Linked DNA regions of Homo sapiens: region 2 is linked to region 1. The links come from fine-mapping of genetic effects on gene expression. A gene starts in region 1. The other region holds a variant in brackets. All regions are shown on one strand. Distances are between the middles of the regions.

Region 1 (15,954 bases):
CTTTGCAGGAGGAGAGGGGAGGGGAGAGAGCAGAGAGAGAAAACATCGGCCTTCCTCTCTGTGTTTCCCTAAGAGAAGCCCCGCCCCACTCCCGACCTCTCTGGCAGGGGTAGGAGATGAGGGACAGTCAGGCTGGACTGACCACAGGGAGATCTGGGTCAGGGCCATTTCCTCAGAGCCTGAGTCCTGAGACACTCCCTGGGCTGTGTGACATTACTCACGTTTCTTCCATCAGGAACTCCACATCCAGCTCCTCCTCTCCCTGAAATCAGAGAGCATGAGCAAGTCATCAGCACATACCTGTGTCTTCAGAGTTGACACAGTTCTTTTACAGGTGTCATCTCATCCTCTCAAGCGGTCTCCAAGGGAGGCACGTTAGTACAATTATTTCCAATTTATGGATGAGGAAACTGAGGTATGGGGCCAGATGGGCTACCTGCCCACATTGCCCACAGCTAGTAAGTCTGCAGAGAACAGGTCTCCCTCCCTTGGAGGTCCCACAACTCTGGGCAAGACTGAAGGGGAAGACAAGGAGCACAGCCAAAGGAGGCATGATGTGCAGGACCCATATCTTTTTCTTGAGGAGGGCCCAGACCCCCGAACTCTGCCGTCCCCACCCCCAGGCTGCAGCAGGAAGGGACGTGAGGCCTTCACAAAGCAGGCCTTGGCACCACCAGCAGGAGTGATGGATGCTGAGCTGTGTTTTGAGGGGTGGCCTTCCTGCCACAGGTGGCTAAAATTCCTCCACTGGGTGATTCAGCCTGTAACTGTAAAGTGAAGCCTTTTCCTTGCTTATTAAAATGCAAATCTAAAAAGGGGTTTAGATTTTTCTGTGAATGAGTTCACCCCAGCAGCCTCCCAACAGGTGGGAGAAATAGCTACTTCCTCAGCTTGGAGTTGGAAGAAGTGGGGCCCACGGGGACTTCCCCACCCACCCACCCACCTGGGGACTCTGGGAGAAGGTTTTCCGGAGCAGCTTGCCAGGGAGGACTTCTGAGATGTCATAGAGAACCTTGAAGCAGATGTCATCCTCCGTGACTGAGTCCTCATCATAGATGCTAAGCTCCAGAACATTCTAGGAACCAGGAACAGCGACTTAGCATTTTACCTGCTCATAGTGAGAGTAGCTCACCTCTGTTGAGCCCTTACTTGATGTCTAGAGTCAGAGAAGATCATTATGCCACCACACGTCTGCGCTTCAAAATAAAAAAAAAAACTGTAAAACTTAAATATAAGGAAATCTTATTAAATTTCAAATTTCCTCCTTCTAATTTTTGTTTTTATCAAACATAAAATTCTGAGCTGGGCATGGTGGCTCATGCCTGTTATCCAGCACTTTGGGAGGCTGAGGTGGGTGGGTCACCTGATGTCGAGAGTTCGAGACCAGCCTGGCCAACATGGTGAAACCCCATCTCTACTAAAAATACAACAAATTATCTGGACATGGTGGTGGGTGCCTGTAATCCCAGCTACTCGGGAGGCTGAGGCAGGCGAATCGCTTGAACCTGGGAGGCGGAGGTTGCAGTGAGCCCAGTTCGCGCCATTCAACTCCAACCTGGGCAATAAGAGCAAGACTCTGTCTCAAAAACAAAACAAAACACATAAAAGTCTGTCAAATAATTCCCTCTTCCTCTCTCCCTGTCTGTGTGTCTCTCTCTCCCTGGCTTTTCTGGCTCCCTGAGGTGCACCCTAAGGTATGTGCTGGTGATCTTTCACGGTCTTCCACGCATTATCTCATCTCACCCCACAGTGACCTGATCAGGAGGGGGCTCTTACTGTCTCTGTTTCATAGCTGGGCTTCGAGAGGAACCCAGCTTGTGGGAGTCAGTCCCACAGCCAGTTGGTGAAAGGACCATGTTCATTCTTTCATACATTCCCTTGCACACAGCACAGACAGGCCAGGGCACAGAGACCCCCTACTGCTGAGAGTTTCTCTGACAGCCCCAGAGGAAGCATGCTCTACCCCAGGAACCCTTGCATGGGGGTCCAGCCCGTTCACAAGGGAGTGGCCAGGAGTCCCGGGCCTTCACCTTGACCTGACTTTGGATAAGGAAACGGAAGGCCTCATTCCACACAGGATGACTGGTGTCGGTGAGCGTCTTGGTCTTAAACTTCATTCCAGGTGCGGTCGACAGCTGTAGGATCACGTAAGGGTCGGCCTCACTCACTGCCAAGGTTAAGGAAGTCTTCGTGAGGGAGTACTCCCCACACCCCTCTCCATGAGCCATGCCAGTTTCCTACCAAGACCCTGGCGGTCACCGCAGGTGACCCAGCCCAGCCCCAGGGCACTCGTCTTGGCCCTTCCTATGGGATCTGGTCCTCCCTGCTCCCGACAGAGCGCACAGGGCGGTTACTCACACAGGTCAGCCCAGCGCAGGTTCCGCGCCTCCAGGACCCTCACTGTGAGCTGCCAGCAGGTAGAGGCCTCCCCCTGAAGAGAAAATCAAACTCCAGAGTCCTTCCTGCATTCCCTCCCTTATGCCTGGAGCTGCAGCCCGGGCTGCCGACACCCCTCACCACTCTCCTGGTACTTGGTGGTGCTGACACCCCTGCCAGGCGTTCCGGGGACACCCTCTGGGGACCAAAGAGCCTTTGTCCACTTCTGTTTTGGGGGTCATGGTTCTGGGCTGCAGCAGTCAGGGAATAGCAGCACACCCAGATGTGGAATTTGTGGAACCCCTTCCCCTTCGGGAACAGAGCAACATGGGTAGTGGACAGAGCAAGGAAGTGAGGGCCAAGGAGTGGCAACCACAGAGGTCAGTTAGATGTCAGCCATTCCCAGAGCTCCCAGGGAGGGCAGCCCTTTGGCAAAACAAGGGTTACCTTTGGTGACCCTGCTGCCAGCACTGCCCACCCCTCAGCCCTTCCGGACGGGAAGCAGGCATATGACTTAAGGGAGGGTGAGCCTCAGCAGCCCAGTCCACAGGCGCTACCCTGGATCTCAGCTATCTGCACTGTAAGGGGTATGAATGAGGAAACTCCAAGAGCATCCAGCCATCACAGGGAGCAGTGGGTGCTGTGGGTGAAAGGCCACTGTGTATTAAGATGCTGATGAGGCCACATCAGCCACAGACAGCCCAGGTGTGAGGGAGAAGCAGCTGAGTGGGCAGAAGCTGGAGGAGAAGATGAGCCGAGAGTAGGTGGCAGGAGGGAAAGCAGATGGCCAGAGGGGCGTGGCTGAGGCCTGCTGGGGTCAGAGCACTGGGGGTGTCCCCACACCCTACTGCTGAGGTCCCCGGCACTGCCACGATCAGGAGGGCCCTGGAGTTTCTGTTCTTCCTGAGCCCTGCAGCACGGCTTTTTCTGGGCATCTGGCACAGGTTTCTTATAAGCCCCTTTGATGTGAGGTTACTCAAATCGGTTTGGCAGGGCAAATGGCATTTTTTCCTGTGGGCTGACCCCAAGGAAGGCTGTTGGCCTTGCATCCTCTTGGAAGGGAGCCTTCCCAGGAGGACCACCTATGAGGCACGTGGCCCCAGCAGAAAGAGCCCATGTCCAGAGGGTCTGTTAGAACAGGGGCTGTCAGGAAGGAACACTGCCTGTGCCGGGGAGTGGGGCAGTGGGAGCCCCAGCCAGGAGGGGATCCTGCAGGGCCACAGCATGGCAGGACCCCCAGGAGGCACCAAGCACATGAAGGCCTATGAAATGCTAACCCCAGGAGCCATGCAGTGTGGCGGCCCTGCTGAACAACCCAGAGACCACCTTCATTCCAGAAAAAAACCCGTGCTGGGGCTTCTGCCATTCAGCGGCTCTGCCACCAGGTTAGACTCCCCATTAAGTAAGTACGATCTTCTCAGACCCTATGTCCCTTCACCCGCTCCTCCCCGACCCTGAGGGAGCCAAAAGCCAGTGCAGTGTTTGCACAGTGAACATTTGATATCGCATAGCTGGGAGACTGTTGTGATAAAACCAGAGGTGTTTCCTGCTTTGCGCTCTCCCGTGACCAGACCCACTTCCATGCATGTGGTTGGAAGTTCTCGGTGCCCACAAGGACTCGTACCCGCTCTGCACAGATGCTGCTTGCTAGGGGCTGGCTCAGCACCCACGGGGACCTGAATCTCCACTCCCCACCAAAAACTGTAAAGGACCATGGGCCACAGCAAAGCCATATGCCTGGTGGCCCTGCCCCTGCATCTTTCCTCTCTGTGGTTCCATGCCAACGTCCTATCATTCCAGGCAGCTTCCCAGCAGAGCACATGTGACCTCCCCGAGCAAGGTAGATTTGTTTCTCTCTTCTTGGGGATTAACTCCAGTGGCACCAGCAACATGTCAACTCTATAAACCTTAAGCCTTATAGAGGTTGTCAGCAGCAGAGATTTCATGAACTTTGGGACATCTAGCTCCATTTCCTCCCCTCACTCAGATTCCACCACTGCCGGCCACAGGGAGGTGATGGCTGGGATGCTGGGGCCCTGCAGGGTATTGAGTTTGAATGTCCCGCTCCAAGACAAGACAGGTGAAGGGCAGAGGCAGCCCAGCCTCGCTCCCCTGCTCCCCCGGCCAGGCTGATACTCCACAGGTCCACAGCTTGTGGGCTGCTCTAAAGTCACTTGGGCTACTGAGAAGTGGCCCCAGTTACTCACTGTCTAGCCAGTCACCATCCCGGGTTTAAGCACTGTGGTTCATTTCTCCCTCCCATCACTGAGAGCTTCTCAACCTCAGAAAGCCCACCATTCCCCGGCAGGTTATTTTCCCTAGAGAAAAATCCCGATTCTCTTCACCTCTAAGATCATCGCTAACATGGAGTGCCCAGAACATGGTATTATTGGGACAGTGATTACAATGACTGGTCTTTACGGGGGCTTAAAGGCAGACTCTGGAGCCAGGTTGTCTGGATTTAAACCCTGGCCCTGCCACTTACTTGCTGTGTGACCTTGGACAAGTCACTAAACTTCTCTGTGCCTCTGTTTCCTCATGTGTAGTGGAAATAATAGTTTTGACCTCACATAGTATTCTGAGGCTTAAAATGTTAATGCCTGCAGACTGCTTAGGAATAAAGTAAGCAGTTTTTAGGTAACTGCTATTGCTACTACTGTTTATTAAGTATTTGCCATGTTTTCAGGCACTGTGAATGTTGCAGATACCAGGATGAAATCACTTTTGTCAGACCCCGACAAATTAGGGCTGGGAACGCATGAAAGAGCAGAGCTCGTATTTACATGTCTGAGATGAGAGTTGTTTCCAAGGACTTCCTACAAACCCCACAGAAAACAGCTTCACATCCTTCATGCCAAAGTCCCTCTTTGACAGGAAGAGGGAAATGAGCAGACCCGCCCTGTTCCCTGCTAGCACCGGTGCCCTGTGGTGGGGTAATGCAGGAGGTCAGAGAGAAGAGGAGTGGAACACCTGGGCACAGCCCCTGGTCCTGGGGACTCAGTCCTGTGAATGCCGGCTGGAGGTGAGGCAGTTTCCAGTTGTGGGGCAGACTCAGGCTCCCAAATCGCTGACACTTAGGCTTTTGTTTTACCTGGGAGCTAGACCTAGAGGAGGCTGAGGGAAAAGGGGGAAGGGGTACAGCCTTCGCCAGGGAGATGAGTTGACAAGGTTCATCACTAGACATCCATTAGGACTGCAATAATTCAGATAAGATGCTCTCAGAAAACACGTGCCCAGTAACAGCATCTCCACCAATGAACTGACAACTCTGGCTTTGAGCTCTGGAACCAATGAACTCTGTTTCCAAGCAGTTTCTGTGAGCCTCCCCCTTTTTTCCAGTAAAAGCTTCCCTTTCCCCTTCCCTCACAATTGCCCTGGCGGCCTGTCATTCGACACATTCCGAGCCACAGTCATTTCTCATTCCAGAGTAAACACAACATAGAGATCATTTTCTCTCGTGTCTTTCTGTAGGGTGACAATACTGTACTAACCATATTACCTACCGTGTGGGTGGCAAGCCACCCAGGCGCCGAGGCAAGAGACCGAGGATACAAGCTGTTCCAGTATAATAAAATATAAAACAAGAATAGTTATACCAGATATAGATCTTAGATACGATTATATATGAATATCATTAATCATTAGTTTGTAGCAATTACTCTTCAGTCCAATATTATAATAATCCTCGCTCTATAATCATAACCTAGGAAAAACCAGGCCATACAGAGATAGGAGCTGAGGGGACACAGTGAGAAGTGACCAGAAGACAAGAGTGCGAGCCTTCTGTTATGCCCAGACAGGGCCACCAGAAGGGCTCCTTGGTCTAGCGGTGACGCCAGCGTCTGGGAAGATGCCTGTTGCCAGGCGGACCATGGTCTAGCGGTAGCGAAAAGTGTCAAGGAAAAACATCTGCTACTTAGCAGACCGGGAAAGGGAGTCTCCCTTTCCCCGGGGGAGTTAGAGAAGACTCTACTCCTCCACCTCTCGTGGAGGGCCTGACGTTAGGCTCGCCCGCAGTTACCTGGAGGCCTAACCATCTCCCTGTGATGCTGTGCTTCAGTAGTCACGCTCCTAGTCTGCCTTCATGTTCCATCCTGTACACCTGGCTCTGCCTTCTAGATAGCAGTAGTCAATTAGTGAAAGTACTAATAGTCTCTGATATGCAGAAATAATGGCGTAAGCTGTCTTTCTCTTTGTCTCCTCTCTCTCTCTGCCTCGGCTACCAGGCAGGGAAGGGCCCCCTGTCCAGTGGACACGTGACCCACGTGACCTTACCTATCATTGAAGATGACTCACACTCTCTACCCTGCCCCTTTTGCTTTGTATCCAATAAACAACAGCACAGCCAGACATTCAGGGCCACTACCGGTCTCCGCGCATTGGTGGCAGTGGTCCCCCGGGCCCAGCTGCCTTTTCTTTTATCTCTTTGTCTTGTGTCTTTATTTCTAAACTCTCTCGTCACCGCACACGGGGAGAGACCCACCGACCCTGTGGGGCTGGTCCCTACACTACTGTAACTTTATTTATCCTCCCACAGCTTCAAAAGACAGTACTCCCATTTCCTCCCATTTTCTACATGAGGGAATTGAGGCTCAGAGAGGCTAACTTGCCCAAGGTCACAGAGTTAGCAGGGACAGAGTTAGAATTCAAACTTCCAGGCCAGAGCTCACAACCCCCGTCTATTCTACCTTCCCAGGACTTTTGCTTCTTTGGAAAAGCATGCAACTCTTCCCTCATTGCCCCACGGATATCTAGGATATCTAGACACTAGATTTTCATAGATTTGTCTAATTTGACTAACAGATATTCATAGATTTGTCACAGATTTGACTAATATGATTACTGAGATAACCGACACTTTAACTGATATGAATCTTTTCCCCTGAGGGCATAGGGGCGTCACATTCCCTTCTGAAAGCTCCTCCCATCTGAAATACCTCCTTAATTGATGACTAACCCGGAGGCTTCTGGAGGAAATTCGTCAGCCCAGTCACCTGTAGGATCCCCCGAATGCCTCCCTGCTGAGGGTCTCAGCCACTCTGAACCTTGCGCAGGGACCCCAGAGGCTCTGGGCCATCCTTCTTCCGGTGGAGAGGCCCAGGGCACACGTTTGCCAGGAAGTTTTGTGAGAGGCTCTGTGCTGCCCCGTGCCCATCTTGGGAGATGTGGCCCAAGAGAGCTTAAGGGGGTTGGGTCTCCCCAGCTGGGGTCCAGAGTATCCTTGCCCGTGATCCTGGGTGTTCGGCAGGAAGAGAGAAATGAGCAGACCCACCCTGTCGTCTGCTGGCACTGGCGCCCTGTGGTGGGGCAATGCAGGAGGTCAGAGAGAAGAGGAGTGGAACCCCTGGGCACAGCCCCAGGCCCTGCACCTCCCTCAGGCTGGGCTGAGTCTCCTGGACCACACGGCAGGCACGTTCCAGAACAGGTCCCGGATGGCCAGCCTAGCCTGCTGGCCCAGGTCCCGCTCTGGGGCAGGTTCCAGGCCCCTGTTCCAGCAGAAATGAGGCTAGGCTAAACCGCTGCTGAAGCTTGCCAACCACAGGAACCGACTTGAAGGCTGGAGCTTGAGGACCTGGTCCTGGGGACTCAGTCCTGTGAATGCCAGCTGGAGGCGAGGTGCTTTCCAGGTGTGGGGCCGACTGAGGCTCCCAAATTGCTGACACTTAGGCTTTTGTTTTACCCAGGAGCTAGACCTAGAGCAGGCTGAGGGAAAAGGGGAAAGGGGCACAGCCTTCGCCAGGGAGATGAGTTTAAAGGGGGAAATATTCCAGAAGCCTCCACAATGGGCCGTTCTGGGCTCAGGGCTCCTGATGGGACGGGTGGTGGAGCCAGGGCCGCCAGCCCCTCCACTGGCCTGCATCCGTGGACTCCCCCGCATCCAAATGTCCGCTGATGTCTGACTCGTGGGTGGATCCACCTGACCTCAGGCTGGGGCAACAGTGTGGTCCTTCACTGAGGGGTCCCTCTCATCTTCCCCCAGGGCTCCTTAGTGTCTGCCCTGCCCCAGGCTGAGCCTCTTCCAGGAGCACCAGTCTGGAGCTGCTTGTCTGGATCCAGCTTGGGCCTGGGTCTCAGGGCCACAGCTCTAGAAGCCCAGCGAGGTCTGCATATGAGGCAAAGGACCTCAGGACAGTGACCTTGACACACTTAGCCTCATTCCTGGCCACCACCTGGGGCACCGGGGGGAGACCTCAGGAGCCAGCTCTGCTGGCCTTGGTCCCTGGCAGAGGATGAAAACTCTGGGCTTTGGAGAAACACATGACAGAGGGTGGGGGGGTGGCGAGAAGTTTGCAGGCCTCCTTGGCCTGGATGCAGCCCCACAGCTCTTGGGCCTACTAAATACTTGGCAGTGGATGGGGATTTGGGCCCCCAGAGCTCTGGAGACACACAGGGTGATCCCAGGGCTCCAGCCAGTTCTGGGAAGTCTGCCGGCCTGTGGTGGTGGGGCTGTGGGCCTGGTGGGTCTCCTTTTGTGACACACCCAGCCACTATGTTCTCCGATGATGGTGGGGGAGAGGTCCCTAAGGACACTGCTGTGGTCGCTGGTGGTGGGGAGAGGAAGCTCTGCTGACCAGACTCACGTTTCCCAGCCCCCGCATCTACGGATGCTGCTCACCCACCCCACCCACTCTGCATCCCAAATCTCAGACTCCCTCGCCCTCTGGCCCAGTCTGAAATCACCCTGATTCCAGCTATCACACTTCCCAGAATGCACCCTGGCTCCAGGCCTGCCCTGACTGGTGCCCACATGCTCTGCAGACACTGTTACCTGGTAAGGGTGGCCAGGTGGTCCCCCAGGTGACAGGCTCTCCATGCTAGCCCTTCCAGCTTCACTCCAGGCCCAGCCCTTGCCAAGATGCTGGCTCTCTGGCTGAGTGGCAGCGACGGTCCCAGTGGGATAGGACCAGCATGAATCTGCCAGCCTTCAATGAGCCACGATCCTATAAACAGGTTGGGGCTCCACCCCCAGGTCGCTCCTTCAGCCCTGCACCTGCCCCTCTTCCCCAAGAGGCTGGGTCAACCAGCATCTCCAGAAACCTCTGGCAGGGCTCCAGGACCTGCAGGCGGAGCACCTCTTCCAGACCTGGAGTTTCAGGACAGAAGATGCAGCCAGGGGGAGGCAGACGAGTCCCAGGAGTGGTGGCAGGAAGCTGGTTCCCCTGAGGCTGAGGGCAGAGGATGGGGTGGGGGTAGAGCTGAGGAAACCCCCAGCTCCACTGGAGCCAGGGCCAGCCTCTAGAGGAGGAGGGCTGAGCACCTGAGACTAGGCAAGGAGCCAGCCCTCCTGGGCAGCTCTGTGCAGCAGGGAGTTCAGGGGATGAAAACAAGAGCAGTCGTGGTGACAGGCCCGGGCTAGTGTATCCTCCTCACCTGACCTGAGCAAGCTCCAGGGAGCAGCACAGGGGTCTGGACATTCCCCACCACAAGCCCCTCACCTCCATGCGGCGGGCCCTAAGAATTTAGGGGATTTCAATTAGACTTTGTAATAAAAGTAAAAGAGACCAATCAGGAGATTCTTAGGTTATGAAAATTGTAGAAGTAAACTTTGTGAAGCCACCTCACCGCTTAAAGCATTCAGTGTACACATTAGCACTGAACGCTCTCCTAAAATGACATGAATTCAGTCATTTTACCATCAATTCTGTAAACAGTTGAACAGCGATGATGTTGTTTTTCAAAGCAAATGAAACTGAGTTAATCTTAAAATACTACAAGTGGATCTAAAATGTATTATTTCAGAGTTGGCCAAAACAGGAATCTAATGGTCTATGAACAAGTAAACATTATTTGGGTGGAAATATCTGTCATTTGCATGATATAAAATTTAATAAAAAAATGAATGTAGTGGTTGAGCATGGCAGCTAACGCCTGTAATCCTGGCACTTTGGGAGGTCAAGGAGGGAGAGTTGCTTGAGGCCAGGAAATGGAGACCAGCCTGGGCAACATGTTGAGACCCCATCTCTACCAAAAAAATTTTCTAAATTAATGGGGCATGGTGGCACGTGTCTATGGTCCCAGCTACTCAGGAGGCTGAGGTGGGAGAATTGTTTGAGCCCAGGAGTTCAAGGCTGCAGTGAGCTATAATTGCACCTTTGCACTTCAGCCTGGGTGACAGAGTGATACACTGTCTCTTTAAAAAAAGGGGTGGGGGGGAAAGAAGTAAATGTAATATGTAGAAAACTACAAAGAACAAGTCATTTCAAGTGGGTCACAGACAAAGCAATACAGAATCACCCAGCTGGTGACTGGAAAGGCTGGGATTGTACTGTCTGTCCTGAAGCCCACCCACCAGAACTTCCCTGGTCCTTGGTGGCCTCCATTGTTTAGGCCCGTTCCAGAGGAATCCTGGGACCTTAGGAGTCCTGATTAACCTCCCTGCCCCTGTCATCCCCATACGCCCGCCGGGATCCGCTGGGGGAACCTAGGGAGGCAGAGCCGCAGCAACACGTTCCTTGAGGTGACCCCAGCCCCAGCGCCCCACTCCAGTACGGGAGGGCCAGACACCCCCTCACCCCCAGAAGACAGCTGGCTGTGCCTGGAGGAGGACGTGGTGCTCAGTTTCCCCACCTGTGCAATGATGGTGTGGTAGATGCTGGGCCTGGTGAAAACTACGAAATTCCTAATTCAGAGATTCTTAATTTGGGTCTAGGGTCCATGGATGGGAATTAGGATACTTTTAACCGTCCCTGAAATTGTATACAAAATTATGTGACTATGTATGCATGTGTGAATGTTTCCAGAGAAGGGGTCTAGAACAGCACAGTCCAGTAGGTGACTATGTATGCATGTGTGAATGTTTCCAGAGAAGGGGTCTAGAACAGCACAGTCCAGTATGTGACTATGTATGCATGTGTGAATGTTTCTAGAGAAGGGGTCTAGAACAGCACTGTCCAGTAGGAATGTTCTGGGAGCTCTGCAGATGTTGTATTAAACTTTCTAGTGGCCACAAAAAAAGAGGTAAAATGATACAGGTGAAATTAATATATATTTAGCCCAATAATCTAAGGTATTGTCAATTCAACATGTAATCAACATATAAAATTATTAAGGAGATATTTTACTTTTTTTCATACTAAGACTTCAAAATCCACTGTGTGTTTTATGCTTGCAGCACATCTTAGTTCAGCCCAGCCGCATTTCCAGAGTCCAGCAGTTGCATGTGGCTAGAGCCTACCTTACCAGAGAGCTCAGGTCTATAGCTTTAATCAGATTCTCAAAAAGAGTTTGAAAAAGATGGAAAACCATTGCTCGATGGGTCACACGTGGATACCCCCCACTTGAAGAGAGCCGCAGGGTTCTGCATGGACGAGAGGAAATATTTAGGATGCTCCCATCACAGTTTCCATGAATTATGTGCCAAGACCTAGGGTTTTGACACATGGTGGAGACCCAAGGTGGGAAGGGGGAAGGACACGGAGCAGGGAAGCACAGTGGCTGGCCTCGGACTGAGGTCCTAAAGATCTCCCCACTCCAACCCTCCAAGGGCTATGAATAGGCAGCTGGGAATAGGGATCAGACCAAGACAAAGGTCAGGACAAGAAGACAGAAGACAGGTAGAGGTGACCTGGAGGCAGTCAGCCTGGAACAGGGCTGGCAGGCACAGCGGGGCTGGGCTGAGGCCACATGCTGCTCACCCAGGCCACGGGTGGAGGGTCCTTAAAGGAGGGCCATGCCTAGAGAGCCCATCAGAGCAGACCTGACCTAAGCAGCCATGCTGGAGGAAGTCTTGGGCGCCATGTTTTCCACTCTCTCATCCCTCTCCCTTGCTGGGCATCCTTGCCACCACTGTCTCTTCTCAACGTTTACTCTATACTCACAGAAAATGAACATCTATTTTTTCATTTGGCACTCAAGGCTCCTTTAATTTCCCCAGATTTTCTCTGGAAACCAGCCCTCCCCGACTCTCTTCCCCCTTGGTTTGGGTGCTGTTGACTCCACCTCCAGCTGCAAGAACACAGCATGTGGTCCAAAGCTGGCCAGTCAGTTCCTGGAAGCTTTCTAACCAAGGCATTTGGTTCATTGGACTCAGGACTCTGGCTGGTGCAATCACAATAAATGCTGGTGCATGAAGTTCTAAGAAAGACACTTTGTCTTTCCTGCTGGGCAGAACTTGGGAGCATATGAAGCTGGGGCTGCTAAATGTATCCATCTTGCCACCATGAGAGGAAAATTTGTCAGGAAAATGGAGCCAGTAATAATAAACACCTATATAACTAATACTTCCTATGTGCCAGGCAGAGGCGGGTTTATTGTGCAGCTAATGATACTTAAGCTGAGTCTTCTCCTTGCACACACACATCCTTCCAAGGCTCCAGGGGAGCCCTAGCAGTAGGTTCGTGTGATCATATATTTTAGTAAAATTCACAGTAGTAAACGATTTTATCCACAATTGGTAAAGACTGCTGTCTTCCCATTCCTACCCCTCTGTTAGCATTGGTGTGGCTATAGATATTTTTAGGATCTGGTTAAGGAGAGGTTGAGTTAGAGATATATTTTATTTCAGTTTAGTGAGATGTATTTATGGGGTTTGCAGTCAGCTTCACATATAGTGAAGTCAGCTTCATGTACAGTCAGCTTCACATATAGTGAAGTTCACTGTGATGTGGGTGTGTCCTTTGGTGCCAGAAGAATTGGATAGAGGAAGAGAAATGAGATCTGAAATATCCAGAGCCAGAAACCAATCTGAAAAATTCCTCTAATCCAACACACAACATTGTAAGTGGAAGACTTGGTTTTCCTTGACACCTGATCAAAACAGAAGTTCTCTCCTGAAAAGGGTGTTTCCCATCATGTCTTGATTGCATGTTTTCCTTTATTTGAGGGTAATTTTAAGAAATATTAATAGAATATGTATCGTGATTCCTGTGCTACAGCAGCTAGCACAACACCTACAACAGCTTATACACCAAAGAAGCTTGATGGAGGCTGCGGCAGATTCTGTTTTCCAATAATGGTTGCACCGATATCTCCTGTCCATGCTCTTCCAGCACCTTGCCACTCCCCATCAAAAAATAGAGGCCAACTCCCCTTCTCTTAAATCTGATGGGCTTGTGATTGGTAACTTACAGGATGTGAGAAAAATGACTGCTTGACTCCCAAGGTTAGATCATAAGGTGATGCAGCTCTCTTTTTTAATGGCTAGAACACTCCCCCTTAGAGCCCTGAGCCGCCAGGCGAAACACCCAACTCCCCTGAGGCGGCCATACTGTGGGGAAGCCCAGCCATAAGGACAGGCCACCAGTGGGTGCTGGAGTCAGCAGTCCTAATCTCCAACTGGCCCAGCCCAGGCTCCAGACCCACGGACGAATGAGCCTTCCAATAATTTTAGCCCCAGTGGTTGGGTCATCCCTAGCCAGGGCCCTTTCTGAATTTCTGACACACAAAATATCTGTGAGCCTAATAGAGTGGTTGCTGTGTTATGCCATTACATTTTGGGTGATTTGTTACATAGCCATAGTAAGTAAAGCAGAGGTTTTCCTAAATTTGTAATGATCCTGAAGTTTTATGTAACATTACCAGTAAAGAATTATGAAGCTGAAAGAAACAATCAATAATGAACTACTATTAACTATCAATAATTTTCTAAAAATTCCAATCAACCAGACTGGAGGAAAGATTGCTACCTATTTGCACCAAAGAAAGTGATATTACAAAACTGGTATTGTTATACAGCAAAGAAGAAATGAAAAAAAACAACAACTCACAAAATGGGTGTTGAACAAAAAGGCAATCAAGGTGTATTCAGGCAAGCAGTGGAGGGAAAAGCATGGAGGTGTGTCTGGCAGTTGATTCACACAAATATCATGGTGTGTTTTTTTTGTTTGTTTTTTGTTTTTGATATGGAGTCTTGCTCTGTGGTCCAGGCTGGAGTGCAATGGCATGGTCTCAGCTCACTGCAACTTCCACCTCCTCGGTTCGAGCAATTCTCATGTCTCAGCCTCCCCAGTAGCTAGTATTACAGGTGCGCACCACCATGCCTGACTAATTTTTGTATTTTTAGTAGAGATGGTGTTTCACCATGTTGGCAAGGCTGGTCAAGAACTCCTGGTCTCAAGTGATCCACCCGCCTCAGCCTCCCAAATTGTTGGGATTACATTTGTGAGCCACTGTGCTGAGCCCATATCAATGTATTTTTTTAAATTTTGTAATATTTTGGAATTTATCAACCTTTTAAAATTTTAATTTTTGCCTGATTTCTTTTTATCATTTACAAAGAATATTAACTTTTGTACCTAACTTTGTGTCAACTTGTATAACCTTCAGGCTCCATAATACACGCCCTTGTGTCACACTATTCAAAGCACTTTATATAGAGAACACCGTTGTTTTATCTACAATTGGCAAAGCTGCCTGTCTTCCTGTTTCTGCCTGTCTGCCGACATTGGTGTGGCTATGGCTGTTTTTAGGATCTGGCTAAGGAGATCCCCCAAGCCCTGTCAGGTGAGGAACTTTTATTATCCTCATTCTACAAATGAGAACACGGAGGCAGGAGTTGGTTGATGAACTGCCCCCAGGTCACCCTGGGAGTGGAGCCCAGAGGCCACAGTACAGTCTCCTTCCAGAGGAAGTGCAGGCAAAAGGGAGCAGAGAGAGCCCTTGGATCGAGCTTTGCCTGAAGGAGTAGATCCAGTCCTGGGCTTTTCACTTGGGTCTCAGCCCCTCCCCACCTACTTTAACCCCAGGAAAGAAGGGTTTGGTCACTCCCTTCCCTTTATCCTTGCTTAGAACACCAATCGATGACAATGTCACAGAGAAGAGGAGGCAGCTGACTGACAGGGGTGTAGGAAGTATCAGGGCTGATGACCTGCTGAGTTTCCATTCCAGGCAAAAGCCCTGGAGCAGGTTGTGGGTCAGATAGCAAGATATGTAGCATGAGGCAGGCATGACACATGCTTCGGTGTTCCGCGCTGAGTACCATGGGAAGGCACAAGCGGGCCTGTACTCTTGCCTCATGAGGAAGTGGTTATTTACCCTGTTGACATGAGGGAAAGGACCATTTCCTGTCCAGGAGTGCTCAGGACCAAGCAGGAAAGGGACACCTCACCCCTGCCCTCATTCATTCTAGGGCTACTGGAAAGGACAAGCCTTGCTGTAAGCAAGGGACAGGGCACCACCCAGCCAAGCCATTCATTCATCCCACAAATTGTTATTGAGTGTCTACCGTGTCCCAGACAGAGAGCTGTGAGGGTAAAAACAGGCCTGGTCCCCACCTCCAGTGTACAACCCACCTTCCACTCCATGTCTCTCAGCCAACGGGGTAAGTCAGTGTTCCAGAACCTGGGACATGACACTTCAGGCCCTGGAGTGCTGGGGCAGATATACAATGCAGAACAGAGTCTCTGGAATTTCAAGGTAAAGAGCCATGGAAGAGCTGTAAACAAATATTAGTCAGCTAATTAACTTAGTTTGGAGGCAGTCGTTGCAGGTCCATGAGCTTTGGGATAAGAAATAGAAACATGTTTTGTTTTGTTTTTTCTCTGAAATTTTTGTTTGTTTTAATACAATTGAACATCTCATTCCCCCCCAACAGTAATCAAAGCAAACATTTTATCATTATTTTTGTCATATTATTCTTGG
Region 2 (15,954 bases), 29 kb after region 1:
GAGGCTGCTGTGAGCTGAGATCGCACCACTGCACTCCAGCCTGGGTGACAGAGTGAGACTCCATCTCCAAAAAAAAAAAAAAAGATAACAGTAATAAATCCAAATATATCAATAATCGTAATAAATGCTAATGGACTAAACTAATCCATTAAAAACTATAAATTTAATTTTCTGTATGCTTGAATTTCTCCTAATAAAAAAAATTTTAAAGAGAGATTGTCAATCTAGTGTTTTTTTTAAACTCCACCTGTGGCTGTTTGTAAGAGCACACTGAAAACATAAGAACACACAAAAAAGTTGAAAATAAGAGCCTGATAAAGATACACCAGGGAAACACTGATCATGAGAAAATTGGTGTACATATAGATAAAAGAGACTCTAATGTAAACATCATTAGGAATAAGGAGGATTGCTGTGTAAAGATCAATGGAATAATTCGCCAGGAAGATATAACAGTTATCTACTTGCATGTATCTAAATAACATAGCCTTAAAATGCTATGCTCTAATTAAAACTTGACAAAATTAAAATGTCCTAAGCAAAACTTGACAAATCTACAATTCTACCTCTCTCATCAATGGATAAATAAAACATATAAAATATTATTGAGAATATAGAAGATTTGAACAACACAGCGAACAAGCTTAATCTACAGGACATATACAGACCCCTACAAATACATATACAGGACATATACAGCCACAACATTTAGGGAATACACCTTCTTCTCAAACACAATGGAACATTTTTTACAAACATTGGTCATGAACAGGGTTTTATGATAAGTCTCAAAAATCTGAAAAAGGTACCATACAGATAACATTTCTTTTACCAAGGTGCAAATAAGGTAGAAATCAATCACAAAAATATGCCTTACAAAATCCATGATTTGAGAATTATGATACACATTACCAAATGGAAACAGAATAAACTTACTTTTTTAAAAAAATTAGCCTTTTTTTTCAGAACAGAAAAACTGTGAAGATAGTACAGTGTTCCCACAGACCCTGTGGCCAGTTTTCCTATTATTAACATCAAACATGAGTATATTTGCTACAATTAACCAATATTGATATGTTATTATTAACTAAATCCATCCCTTATTCAGATTTCCTTAGTTTTTACCTAATGTCCTTTTCTTTTCCAAGATTCCATCTAGGATATGACATTTAGTAGTCACGTCTTAGGCTCCTCTTGGCTGTGATGGTTTCTCAGACTTCCCTTGTTTTTGATGACTTTGACAGTCTTGAGAAGTACTGGTCAGGTATTTTGTAAAATGTCCTTTGATTGAGATGTGTCTGATGTTTTCCTCATTATTAGACTAGAATCATGGTTTTGAGGGAGGAAGACCACAGAGGTAAAGGGCCATTTTCCTCACATCACATCAAGGGTACATGCTATCAATGTGCCTTATCAATGTTGCTGTTGACCTGATCATCTGGATGAGGTAATATTTGCCAATTTTCTCTACTGTAAAGTTACTTCCTCCTTTCCATTCTGTACTCTTTGGAAGCAAGTCACTAAGTGGAGCTCATACTTAAGGGGTGGGGAGTCATATTCTACCTCCTTTATTGAGGAGTATCTACATAAATTATTTGGAATTATTCTGCATGAAAGATTTGTCTCTTCTTTCCCATTGATTTATTTTATTAGTATTTATTTATATTAGTTTATTTATATTAGTATGGACTCATGGATATTTTATGCTTTAGGTTGTAATCCAATGCTACTTTATTTCTTTTAATTTTTAAAAATTTTTTATTTTATTTAATTATTTAATTAAAAAAAATTTTAAACTATTATTAATTTTTTTTTTGAGACAGGGGTCTTGCTCTGTCACCCAGGCTGGAGTGCAGTGGCATGATCTCGGCTCACTGCAACCTCCGCCTCCCAGGTTCAAGTGATTCTCCCGCCTCAGCCTCCCAAATAGCTGGGATTACAGGTGGGTGCCACCACACCCAGCTAATTTTTTTTTTGTATTTTTAGTAGAGATGGGGTTTTACCATGTTGGCCAGGCTGGTCTTGAACTCCTGACCTCAAGTGATCCACCCGCCTCGACCTCCCAAAGTGCTGGGATTACAGGCATGAGCCATAGTGCCCAGTCAACTTTGTTTTCTTTTGTTGCTCAAATTGTTCCACCATTGGCCATTGGGGAGAATTTGTTGTTGCCTCCTGTGTCTCTTTTGACACGTATGTATTGTTTTGCTTTTTGAGCACCTCCTTGCTTTTTGATCACTTCCTTACTTTCTGGCACTACAAGATGCTTTAGGATCATCTTGTATACTGACTGTTTCCACTCTAGAATGAACCATTTCTCCAAGAAACCCTGGTTCTTTCTTGTTGAAGAATGCTATTAGAAGCCAAGATCTGGGCACTGTGTGTGCTCATTGCTACTGGGGTGTCATTACTTCTAGGTTCTCTCAGCAAACAGAGCTAGGCTATTGTGTGTGTGTGTGTGTAACACATATTTAATATATTATATATGTTTATATATATGTATGTATATGACATATACTGATCTGTGTATACACACATATATATAATTATTTTTATATCTATCCATCAATATCTAAACTAAACATGGTATCTCTGACTCTAATCTAGCACCACATTGTTCATTCTAGTAATCCAAAAGCCTTTTGAAAAACTGAATTACTGGCTGGGTGTGATGGCTCATGCCTGTAATCCCAGCACTTTGGGAGGCCGAGGTGGGTGGATTGCCTGAGGTCAGGAGTTCGAGACCAGCCTGACTAACATCGTGAAACCCTGTATCTACTAAAAATACACACACAAAAAAAACAGCCACGCATGGTGGCACACGCTTGTAGTCCCATCTACATAGGAGGCTGAGACAGGAGAATTGCTTGAACCCAGGAGGTGGAGGTTGCAGTGAGCTGAGATTGTGCCACTGCACTCCAGCCTGGGTGATAGAGCAAGACTCCATCTCAAAAAAAAAAAAAAAGAAAAAGAAAAAAAGAAAAACTGAATTAGTAATTCAAAATCTAACAACAATAAAAAATAAACTCAAGACCCAGATTACTTTATAGGCAAGTGTTACCAGGTAAAGACTAGACACCATTTTAAATGTGCATTTGAAAAACATCAAGACCTCAACAAATGGAAAAAATATGCCATGTTCCTTAGATAGAATCTTTATCTAAAGATATCAATTCTCTCCAAAAACAATCTCTATATTTAATGCAACTTTAAATAGAATCCCAAAAGGGTTTTTCATGAAACTTGATGAGCTGAATCAAAAATTTATATGGAAGATCAAAAAAATAGTAATAGCCAAGACAATACTAAAAGAACAGGAAGGAGGCTTGCCTTACTGTAAATTAATTACAGCAGCTGAGTCTTGGAGCAAGAACAGACACACAAATATAACAGAATATAGAGCCCAGAAACAATACCTACACACAGCTGGAAACTTGTTATATGATAAAAGTGGCAGTGTCGATCAGGGCAGAAAACATACTAGCTATTGAATGGTGCTAGGGAAAACATAAAATCAATTCAGGCCCTATATTTTATTTTTTGAGACTGGGTCTGGCTCTGTCATAAGGCTGGAGTACAGTGGTGCAATCTTAGCTCACTGCAACCTCCACCTCCCAGGCTCAAGTGATCCTTCCACTTCAGCCTCCTGAGTAGCTGGGACTACAGGTGCAAGCCACCACACCTGGCTAATTTTTATATGTTTTGTAGATACGAAGTTTTGCCACATTTCCCAGGCTAGGCTTGAACTCCTGAGCTCAAGCAATCCTCCCGCCTCAGTCTCCCAAAGTGCTGGGATTGCAGGCGTGAGCCACCGTGCCCGGCCAGGCCCTATATTTAAAAAGTAAAGATTAAAACTCTTAGAATAAAATATATGATATTTAGAACATCAAGATAAGGAAGGATTTTTTAAAAAAGAAACAAAACCCATAAATCACAAAGGATAACTATTGTTTATTCAATTATATTAAAATATAAAACTTTAAAATAAAAGACACCTTCCAGTGTGGAAAAAATAATTCACAGACTGAGGGAAGATATTTGCAATATATTTAACCAAAAATGTATTAGAATAAAAAAACATATTTATATGTTTACAAATCAGAAAAAGACAAAGAACTGAATAGAAAAATGGGCAGAATATACAAACCAGCATATCACAGATGAGCAAACCAGCACAGACAAAAACACACCAAAAATATGCTGCACCTCACTAATATATGAGGAAATGCAAATTAAATCCACAGTGGGATACTATCTCGAACACATCAGATTTGCAAAAACTCAAAAGCCTTACAAGCTCCCTGAACTCAGCATTTTCCCTTCTCTTAAGTCATTCAAAGGCAACAGGAGAAAATAACAACAGAAACACAAACTCTACGTTTGATGAAATTTAAAAAAACATTTGAATCCCAATCCACAAATATATGTGGACTACTAAAAGCAATGAAGATCAAACAGGGGTGTGGAGGGAAAGGGATCAAGAATGCCTACAACTTCTGAGCTCACAGACACCTACAGGGTGCCCATGCCAAGGGGAGGAACACACCTTAAACTGCAAAGCCAAAATAATGGATGGGGTGCATGGACTTGTGGCAGGAACTTCTCTGGAATGGATTTAGTTATGGAAAATATTGGGGGCGGGGCTGACTGACAAATCCCAGAAGCAAGACTCTTTAAGGAGAAGCTGTGTATTCCAACAGCTGCCTATCTCATTCGGCTGAGCAACGATAAAGCTAAAGGAACTCATGCACCCTGAAAGGACAGTTCCTGCCGCAGCACAAGCAGCCTATGCCCCTCCCTGAGACTCTTATTCTGAAATAGCTGGTGTCTGTAGCAGGGTTCTTCACAGAAACAAATAGGATGTGTACATAGAGAGAAAGAGATTTATCATAAGGAAGCAGCTCACAATTATGGAGGCTGGCAAATCCAGAATCTGCAGCGTGGGCCAGCAGGCTGAAGACGCAGGAGAGCTAATGGTGCAGGTGAGGTCTAAAGGCAGAGTCTGCTGCAGAACGGGCTCTTGCTCGGGGAGGTCAGTCTTTTTGCTCAGTTCAGGCCTTTAACTGATTGGATGAGGCGCACCTACATTAGGCAGAGCAGTCTGCTTTACTCAGAGTTCACCAATTTAAATGTTAATCTCATCCCAAAACACCCTCCAAATTGACACATAACATTACCCATTACAGTGTCTTAGGTCTGGTTCCTTAGAAGCAGAGCCTGAGGCAGGGACTGGGGACACTTGTTGTACAGGGAGAATACTCCCAGGAGACAGGGAGAGAGGGAAGCAGGGAGGAAAAATAGCTAAACAAACACGTGGTCTCAGCTGCAGCCTCGCTTCAGTCTGGTCCCACGGGGACCTCTGCAGCACAAATTGCAAGAGGTGGTCCCACTTTGGAGCAAGGGGCCTGGCCTTCTGAGCCCCTCTGTCTGTCGGGGATTGACTGCTGACGGCCTCAGGGTTACGGGTATGAGTGAGAACTTAACCTCTCAGGTGCGATGGTTCATTGCATGTGCTTCCTTGGCTAGGCTATGATGCCCAGCAGTTCAGTCAAACACTAGCATAGATATTGCTATGAAGGTATTTTGTAGATGTGACTAATTTACAATAAGTTGACTTTAAGTAAAGGGCATTACCCTCAGTAATGTGGGTCGGCCTCGTTTAATCAGTTGAAAAGCATTAGGAGCAAAAACTGAGGTTTCTCAGAAAAGGAGGAATTCTGCCTTAAAGACTGCAACTCTTGCCTGGGTTTCCAGCCTGCCAGCCTGCCCTACAAATTGCAGACTTGTCAGAGCCCACAGTTGCATGAGCCAATTCTCTCCCTCTCTCATTGATATTGTCTCTCTGAAGAACCCTGAGTGATAAAGCAGGTGTGGGACTCTCATTCAGCCAAGCACAGATCTTTGGAGAAGGGGTTAGCTGAGGGCCATTAGCAACCAACCCTCTCAGCAGCCAGGCTGGTCAAAGGAAGCTGTGCAGGCCACCAACAGCATATACTACAGTCCACCTCCCAAACCACTGAGATCCAATTGCTTCCCATATTAACTTCATTCAATCTAGGCACAGCTTTTCCAGGATTCTGGCTGGTCACAATTTGTGGGAACATTTACAGGAGAAGAGTTAGTGGAATGAACTACAGCCCACACCACCACAGTTTGTCTCAATCTGTCACTGATACTCATCATCTTCCTCCTCCACCACCCACTCTAGGTTCTCTTGCCTCTCAGCGAGCACTCCTGCTGCTCTCTGTGGCTCTCAGGAGGGGTGTTCCAGACCTTTATCTCAGAGGAGTCTGAAGCTCAAGTTATGCTTTACTCAGACCATGGTTGCTATATTTACCCATTTTTACATGCAAAATTTCACATAGAAAAAAGCAAACCCAGGATCACCTGAGTGCCAAACATATTCCTCCCTGCCCCCATCATCCCACTGTATAGCAGCAGCTCTGTGTCTTCCTGATGATCAGATCAATTACCCCTGCTGGAGCTGTAACCCCTTCCTTTGCCTGCTGATCTACCAGCATGAGGAGGCCAAAGTGGCCAGGCTGCAGCCATAGCTGTAAGATTATTGGGACTCCTATGGCGTCCTCCAATAGAAGCATTTCCCGCTCCTGCCCCCAGGAACCAGGAGCTCTAGACCCACAGAGTCTAAAGTTTCTGTGAAGAGAAGCATAAATTCCCCAGGTGGGTCACTTAGAATAGTGATGAGCAGAGCCACTCCTACTTCTACCGCTTGGACCCTGGACCATCCATTCTACCTAGTGGGGACAAATGCACATGCAATGGCCATTGGCTTCAGATGTGTATTGCATCCTGAAGATAGCACACTATCCCCAAACTAGCTCCTCCATGCATCTTCAGGAGGCCATCTCGCCACTCTATTGGGCAATAGTTGGTGGTTGATGTGATATGCACCACACTGCCTCCCTTACTCTAAGTTGCTGTTATGCACAGTCATATGTAGATTAGACATTGTGTAAGTCGTTGGATTGTCGTGCTTGCTGAGGTGCAGGAAGCCGGAAAGGTAATCCACATACAGAATGTGTGTCCATTTCAGTAAGTATGAATTGTCCTTTTCAGGACAGAAGGGGTCCTGTATAATCAGCTTGCCATCAGCGGTCAGTTGAGCTCCTGGGTGCCTTATTGCAGACTCGGTGTCAGTCTTTGCAGCTGGCAGGTTCGACAATCAGCAGTGTCAGTAGCTAGGTCAGTCTTGGAATGGGGATCCTATGCTATTGGACCCCTGTACTGCCTCCATCTCTGCTCCATTTGGGAGCACAAACATTAAGATGGCTGAGGACAGGGCTGATTGACAACCACTGGACGATCCATCCCACTCATCTGGTTGTTCAGTCCTTCTGCGAGTGGTCAGCACTGTCATTAGCATAAA[G/C]ATGCTCACCCTTTGTGCCTACTCCCGAAAGGGCTCAGCTGCACTGCAGACTGGGCAGAATAGGCCAAGTGACAGGCCAGCCCTGGTACTGGTGACTAACAGCCTGCTGGACCTCCCTGCCCTAGTCCTGAGCTTGAGCTCTGCCGGCTGGCTCTGGGCCTGGCCCTGGAGGGGTCCACAGGTTGCAAGAAGTACCTTGTGCAATCCACACTGGAAGCCTGTCCTCACCCAGATCAGGGTGGAGCTGAGGGGGCCCTCAGGGTTTCAGGGCCTGGGTGTAACAGCAGCCAGTCAGATCAGGGTAGATACACACAGATACACACACACACACACACACACACACACACATATTATCCCTGGGGCTCAGCCCAGCTCACTCTGGAGGCTGAAGGCACTCCTGTCAGCCCTGTATCTGGCTTCATTGGAAGTTTCCCAAATGCAAAGACTTTTTGTTGTTGTTGTTGAACTCAGGCCCCTTACTTTCTCCACATTCATGCCTAAAACACAAGATGCGAAAAAAAAAAGCCAAGTGCTCAAAGGCATACGGTAGTATGGTGGCTAATTCTTTGGGTGTTGGAATTAAAAAAAAAAAAAAAGCCCTGAGTTTGAGTTCAAGGTATGGCTTTGTCACTTTTGACTTTAATGTTCTTGGATAAATAACAATTCTCTGAGCCTCAGTCTCTACATCTATAAAACATGAATAATATTACCTCCCTCACAGAATTGTGAGGATAAAGGAAAACACATATGTAAAATGTTTGACACAAAACAAGTATTCAACAGAGGCTATATAACAATATTATTAAAAACAAGAGTTTGTGATAAAATAGGGAACACAGAGAGAAAACCCAAAATAAATGCAGAAGACAGAAAGAAATGGGAAACACCGAAGACCCTGTGGCAAGCATGAAAATCAGACCTCCTTCAAAAGAACCTGCTGCAGGCTTATAGTGACCACCAGTCCCTGGCCACCCTCTGGAGCTATCACTGCGTTCACACCAAGGCCACGCTTTCTTGAGTTACTCCTAGCCAAAGACAGAACGTGGTGGGGCACTAGTGTCTGCCCATTCCTGTGGGATATGGGACCCCTCTAATGGGCAACTATGGCTCCAGGACTCCCATCAGCCGGGCTGGAATTTTCTTAGAACTGAGTCTGAGGCCCTTCCTTCCATCGCCCCTTCCTTCCCTGTCTCCTTTCATAGGTGTCCAAATGGTATTACAATCTGAAGGCTCTCCTGCCCCTTTCCTTCCTCATTCACAGGTGTTTACTTTAACAAGTCTCTGGCACAAATAATCCCATCTTGGCCACTTTAGAGCACCTGAACTAACACAGGCCCCTTCCCTAATGCTGGGCTTTCTTAGAGGGAGGGTCCTGAGAGGATCTGTCCCAAATCTGTGTTGTGCACCACCTGGGTGAGGGCAGCCGCAGTTCCAGGTTGACATGAAATTCTTAGATCATGGAGCTTGAATGGGAAACAGGAAGTGAGTGTCCTTGGGACATGCTATGATGCCTGATGGTTCATGTTCCTCTCTGTACCTGAAGTCGCCCCTCAGATTAAGCAATCCCTGCCTCTTCCTGCCCCCACTCCCTAGGCTGGCTCCTCTGGCCTGCACTTCAAATTCATCCTGCTTGTGCATAAACATAATTAGTGTGAATGCTTTGTTTGGTTGAACCAGTATTCTATATAGGTCTGGGGAGGAGTTTATTGTTGGCTTCTCTGAAGCCATAAATGTAAAGGAGAGCTTTAGGTGGGATGTGGCTCCCTGGGCAGGGAGACAAGCTGCAGACGTGGCCCAAGCCTAGGAGAGCTGGGAAACTCCAGCCCAGGGAGGGCTGTGGCTATGCCCACTTGCAGGTTGGGTTAAATCCCCAGCCTTTGCAGGGACAGAGTGTAGCCCTCAGGGTCCTGGGGGTTCTGGGTCAGATAAGGGTCTCTGGAGACTTCCCTCCACCCCTCATCCCAGGACCCAGTGCATCAGGGAAGTCCTCAAGGTCTGCAGCATGGCGCTGTGGCCGCACAGGTGCAACAAGTGGTCGTAAAAGTCTTTCACCTTGAACATCATGTAGTACAGAGAATAGGGTGAGGAAAAGTCACAAAGGTGTAATTGGCTTCCCTGCCTCCAAGGAGAGAGGAGATTAAGAGCAGGTCACAGAAGGCTTCCACCCATCTAGTAAGCTGAGGTCTCAAGGTTGGGAACAAGCCAGGCTTCATGCTTGGAAACATAGAAATGTTGCATTTTCTGGATTCAGACACATGTAACCACATGTAACCAGCACTACAGTGTCATATAGAGTAGATTCACTACCCTCAAAAGCTTCTGTGCTCTGCCTCTTCATCCCTCCCTCCCACCTAACGCTTGGCAATCACTGATTTTTTTTTTTACTGTCGTTTAGTTTTTCCTTTTTCAGAATGTCATACAATTGAAATCATACTCTGTACTCTTTTCAGACTGGCTTCTTTCACGTAGTAATACACATTAAGTTTCCTCCATGTCTTTTCAAGGCTTGAATGCTTATTTCTTTTTAGTGCTGAATCATATTCCATTGTCTGGATGTACCCCAGCTTGCTCATCAATTCACTCACTGAAGGACAGCTTGGTGTCTTCTAAGGTTTAGCAATTATAGCTAAAGCTGCTATAGACATTCATGTGCAGTCTTTGTAAAGAGATAAGTTTTCAACTCTTTTGGGTAAATATTCCAAAATGAAATGGAGAATATGTTTCGTTTTTTAAGAAACCTTCAGATTTGTATCCAAAGTGACTGAATCATTTTGCATTCCCACCATTAATGAGTGGAAGTTCCTGTTGCTCCATGTCTTCGCCAGCATTTGGTGTCGTTAGTGTTCTGGATCTAGTCATTCTCATAGATGTGTAGTACTATTTCATTGTTCCTTTAATTTGCATTTCCCTGATGATGTATGATACGGAGCATCTTTTCATATGCGTACCTGTCATCTGTATTTCTTCTTTGGTGAGGTGTCTGTTAAGGTCTTTGGCCCATTTTTTAATAGGGTTGTTTTCTTTTTATCAAGTGTTAAGAGTACTTTGTATTTTGGATAACAGTCCTTTATTAGATATGTCTTTTGCAAATATTTTCTTCCAGTCTGTGGCTTCTCTTCTCATTCTCTTGGCAGTGTCATTTGAGGAGCAGAAATGTTTTTTTTGTTTTTTGTTTTTTGAGACAAAGTCTCACTCTATTGCCCAGGCTGGAGTGCAGTGGCACAATCTCGGCCCACTGCAACCTCTGCCTCCCGGGTTCAAGCAATTCTCCTGCCTCAGCCTCCCAAGTAGCTGGGATCAGAGGCATGCGCCACCATGCCCAGCTAATTTTGTATTTTTAGTAGAGATGCGGTTTCACCATGTTGGCCAGGCTGGTCTCAAACTCCTGACCTCAGGTGATCCACCCGCCTCAGCCTCCCAAAGTGCTAGAATTACAGGTGTGCACCACCACGCCTGGCCAAGAAATGTTTTATTTTAATAAAATCCAGCTTATCAATTATTTCTTTCATGGATGTTGCCTTTGGTATTGTATCCAAAAAGTCATTGCAAAACCCTAAGTCATCTAGATTTTCTCCCGTTATCTTCTAAGAGTTCTATAGTTTTACATTTTACATTTAAGTCTCTTATCCATTTTGAGATAATTTTTGTGAAGAGTATAAGGTCTGTGTCTAGCCATTATTTTTTTTTTTTTTTTGCATGTGGATGTCCAGCTGCCCCAGCATCATTTGTTGAAAAGACTCGGCTTTATTGTATTGCCTTTGCTCCATTGTCAAAGATCGTATATTTATGTAAGTCTATTTCTGGGCTGTCATTCTGTTCCATTGATCTATTTGTCTCTGTGCTGTGTCTTCATCCCTTCCTCCCCCTTAACTTCTGTCACCAATATCACATTGTCTTGATTATCATAGCTTTATAGTTAGTCTTTAAGTTAGATAGTGTCAGTCTACCAACTTTGTTCTTCTTTAATGTAGTTTTGGCTACTCGGGGTTTCTTGCCTCCCCATACAAACTTTCGAATCAGTTTGTCAGTATCCACAAAATAGCTTGCTGGGATTTTGATTGGAAGTGCATTAAAACTATAGATCAAGTTGTGGAGAACTGACATCTTGACAATATTGCATCTTCCTAACTATGAATATGGAATATCTCTCCATTTACTTAGTTCTTTAAATTTCTTTCATTGTGGTTTTATAGTTTTCCTCATATAGATGTTGTGCATATTTTTTAGCTTTATACCTAAGTATTCATTTGTGGGGATGCTAAATAGTATTGTGTTTTTTAATTTCAAATTCCACTCATTCATTGCTGGTATATAGGAAAGTGATAGACTTTTAGATATTAAACTTGTGTCCTGCAACCTTGCCATAATTGCTTGTTCACTTGGAGTTTTTCTAGTACATGGTATGGAGCATGTGAATCCAATTTTATTTTATTTTACAAATAACTATCTGGTTATCACAATGTCCTTATTTAAAAGTCATTTTCTTCTTCAGTGACTTATCATGTATAGTTTACACTAAATGTTCATATGTATTGCCATCTATTTTTATACTGTGTATTCTGTTCTGTTGGTTATGTGTCAGCAGCATATAATTTTAATTATAAGGCCTTTATCATGTTTTAATGTTTGATAAGGCTCATCCCCTGCCCCCCATTCACACCATAATTATTGCTTTTTCAAGAGATGGGGTCTCACTATATTGCCCAGGCTGATCTCAAACTCCTGGCCTCAAGCGATCCTCCTGCCCCAGCCTCCCAAAGTACTAGGATTATAGGTGTGAGCCACCGTGCCTGGCTCCTGCAAGTTTATCTGTTCATATAAACTTTACAATTAACTTCCCTAGCTTAAAAAAATAGTTATTTTTAATTGAATTACATTGGGGGAAATTGATGACTTTATGACATCAATTTCCCCCAATGTAATAAATATATACTTATTTTTATTATTATTATTTTTTGAGACAGAGTTTTGCTTTGTCACCCAGGCTAGAGTGCAGTGGCACAATCTCGGCTCACTGAAACCTCTGCCTCCCCAGGTTCAAGCAATTCTTGTGCCTCAGCCTCCTGAGTAGCTGGCCATCAGGCACCTGCGACCACACCCAGCTGATTTTTTGTATTTTAGTAGAGACGGGGTTTCGCCATGGTGGCCAGCCTGGTCTTGAACTCCTAAGCTCAGGCCATCAGCCCAGCTCAGCCTCCCAAAGTTCTGGGATTACAGGCACGAGCCACCACACCCGGCCTCTACTTACTTATTTTATTATATTTATTTATTTATTTATTTTGAGATGGAGTCTCGCTCTGTCACCCAGGCTGGAGTGCAGTGGTGCAATCTTGACTCACTGCAACTTCTGCCTCCTGGGTTCAAGTTATTCTCCTGCCTCAGCCTCCTGAGTAACTGGGATTACAAGCACGTGCCACCATGCCCAGCTAATTTTTTGTATTTTTAGTAAGACCGGGTTTCACCATGTTGGCCAGGCTGGTCTTGAACTCCTAACCTGCGCCTCCCGGGTTCAAGCAATTCTTGTGTGTCAGCCTCCCTAAGTGCTGGGATTACAGGCATGAACCACTGCATCCAGCCCATTTATTTATTTTAGATTCAGGAGGTATACGTATAGGTTTGTTACATGGGTATATTGCATGATGCTGAGGTTTGGGCTTCTAACCCAAGTACTTCGCCCAAATGATATGGGATGGGACAGGGAAGTTCTGGTTAGAGAAGGGCGGGGTCCCTGGCGAGGGCTCCATCCCCATTTTGTGCTCAAATGTTGTGTTTCCCAAGACCACCCTGGCCTGCCACACTCCCATCCTGTGCCTATAAATACCCTGAGACACTAGCGGGCCAAGCAGCTGGATGTTGAGAGGAACTCAGCCATGGAAGAAGACACAAGCCACCTAAAGATGGCAAAACTGAAAGAGCACACCATAACACACGCCCACTGGGGCTTCAGCTGTAAACATTCACCCCCTAGACACTGCCATGTGGTCGGAACCCCACAACCTGTCTGTATGCTCCCCTAGAGATTTGAGCAGCGAGCCACACCCCCATCGCACGCCCTGCAGGGGGATAAGGGAACTTTTCCCATTTCACAAGTATTGAATAGGTAGTTGTTCAACCCTTGCCCCCTTCCTTTCTCCCTGCTTTTGGAATTCCTAGTGTTTATTGTTCCTGTCTTTGTGTTCATGCATATCTAATGTTTAGCTCCCACTTATGAGTAAGAACATGCAGTGTTTGGCTTTCCGTTTGTGTTAATTTGCTAAGGATAATGGCCTCCAGCTGCATCCAAGTTGCTGCAAAGGACATGATTTCATTCTTTTTTATTGCTGTGTAGTATTCCATAGCGTATATGTGCCACATTTTTCTTTACCCAATCCACCATTGATGGGCACCTGGGTTGATTCCATGTCTTTGCTATTGTGAATAGTGCTGTGATAAACATAAAAGTGCAGGTGTCTTTTTGGCAGAACAATTTATTTTCCTTCAGGTATATATCCAGTAATAGGATTGCTGGGTTAAATGGTAATTCTATTTTTACTCCTTTGAGAAATCTCCAAACTGCTTTCCACCGGGGCTGAATAAATTTGCACTCCCACCAACAGTGTATAAGCATTCCCTTTTCTCCACAACCTCACCATCATCTGTTATTTTTTGAGTTTTTAAGAATAGCCATGTTGACTGGTGTAAGATTAAACAGTGCTTGAAGGAAGTGTATAGCTCTAAATGCATATGTTAGAAAATAACCTGGGCTGGGTGTGGTGGCTCATGCCTGTAATCCTAGCATTTTGGGAGGCCAAGGTCATCAGATAGCTTGAGCCCAGGAGTCTGAGACCATCCAGGACAACATGGTGAAACCCTATCTCCACACACACACACACAAATATCTATATCTCTCTCTCTCTATATATATATAAAAATTTAGCTGGGCGTGGTGGCGCACACCTCTAGTCCCAGCTACCCAGGAGGCTGAGGTGGATCACTTTAGCTCAGGAAGTCAAGGCTGCAGTAAGCCAAGATCATGCCACTGCACTCTAGCCTGAACGACAGAGCAAGACCCTGTCGAGGGGCGGCGGGGGGAGAGAGGGAGAGAGAGAGGGAGGGAGAGAGAGAGGGAGGGAGGGAGGGAGGAAGAGAGGAAGAGAGGGAGAGATAGGAGGGGAGAAGAGGGGAGGGGAGGGGACAGGCTGATAATTAATGATGTTGAGCATATTTTCATATATCTGTTAGCCATTTCACATGTCTTCTTTGCAGAGATTTCGTTCAAGTCCTTTACTCAGTTTAAAATCAGGTTATTTTTGTTGTTTTTGTTTTTTGCTATTGAGTTGCAGGATTTCCTTATATATTTTAGAAATTAACCCTTATCAGATATATGATTTACAAATGCTTTCTCCCATTCTGTAGGTTGCCTTTACATTCTGTTAATTGCTTCCTTGGTATGCAGAAGTTTTTTGGTTTGATGTAGTCCTATTTATCTATTTTCAGGTTTGTTCCCTGTGCTTTTAGAGTCATATCCAATAAATTATTACCAATGCCAATGTCAAGAAAATTTCCCCTATAGTTTCTTTTAGGAGTTTTACAGTTTCATGTCTAACATTTAAGTCTTCAATTCATTTAATTTTTGTGTACAGCGTAAAGTAGTGTTCTAACTTCATTTTCATTTTCTCTTTTTTTGGCATGTGGATATCCAATTTTCCCAGCACATTTGTTTGAAGAGACTATATTTCCTCTCTGTCTCATTGCATATTCTTGGTACCTTCGTCAAAGATCAATTGACCACATATACATATGTTTACTTCTGGGCTCTCTATTTTGTTCCATTGGTCTATACGCCTGTCTTTATGACAGTATTTTTTAGAGTCAGACTCATGGAATTTATTTTTTAAGAGTCAGACTCATAGAAGCAGAGAGTACCATAGTAGTTGCCAGAGTTTAGGTGTGAGAGAAATGAGGAATTGTTGTTCAATGGGTATAAAGTTTCACTTTTGCTAGACAATTAAGTTCTGGAGATCTGCTGTACAACATAGTATTACAGTTAACAACATGGTATTGTAGAATTCAGAATTTGTTAGAGGGCAGATCTCACCTTAAGTGTTCTTACCACAAAGACAAAACAAAGCAGAAACAAAAATAAAACAAAGCGGAAACAAAAACAAAACAAAGCAGAAACAAAAACAAAAGAACACCAGGAACTTTTTTAGGTGTTGACTGTGTTGACTTGATTGTGGTGATAGTATCACAGGTGTTTGCCTACGTCCAAACTCATCAAATTTTACATATTAAACATGTGCAGTTCTTTGTACGTCAATTATACATCAATAAAGCTGCTTTTTAAGAAAGGAAACCACTGAGTTGAAATGGTCAGCTTCTGTCTTAAGAAGCTAGACAAAGAGCAAATTAAACTCAAAGTAATTAGAAGGAAGTAAAAAAGAACAAAATTTATTTAAATAGAAAATGGGAAAATAATGAATAAACAAAAGCAAAAGTTAGCTCTTCTTGAATATTTAATAAAATTGAGAAATCTCTTCGCTAGACTGATCAAGCAGAGAGAAAACACAAGCGAGCAACATCAGAAATGA

Which allele goes with the higher level. Positions count from the first base shown, and alleles are read on the strand shown. Sizes are in standard deviations (SD) of each study's normalised expression.
For the expression in esophagus mucosa of the gene that starts at base 9,293 in region 1, allele C in region 2 goes with a higher level than allele G (moderate effect, 0.65 SD a copy in GTEx).

The links. PIP is the estimated chance that this variant, and not a neighbour inherited with it, causes the effect.
Region 2: its variant is fine-mapped to the expression of PLA2G4D in esophagus mucosa (GTEx, PIP above 0.99).

What each region holds. Positions count from the first base shown.
Region 1 is chr15:42,085,270-42,101,223 of GRCh38, forward strand. PLA2G4D (phospholipase A2 group IVD) reads right to left here and starts at 9,293. Exons shown (of 20, transcript NM_178034.4): 1 at 9,146-9,293; 2 at 2,359-2,431; 3 at 2,031-2,167; 4 at 944-1,075; 5 at 222-262. The coding sequence starts at 9,190. RefSeq lists enhancers at 1-137, 6,169-7,143, 8,118-9,092, 11,491-11,991.
Region 2 is chr15:42,114,302-42,130,255 of GRCh38, forward strand. No RefSeq gene overlaps it. Among named protein-coding and RNA genes, the nearest start is that of PLA2G4D, 28 kb to the left of the region's middle. The variant G/C (reference allele first, on the strand shown) is at 7,385.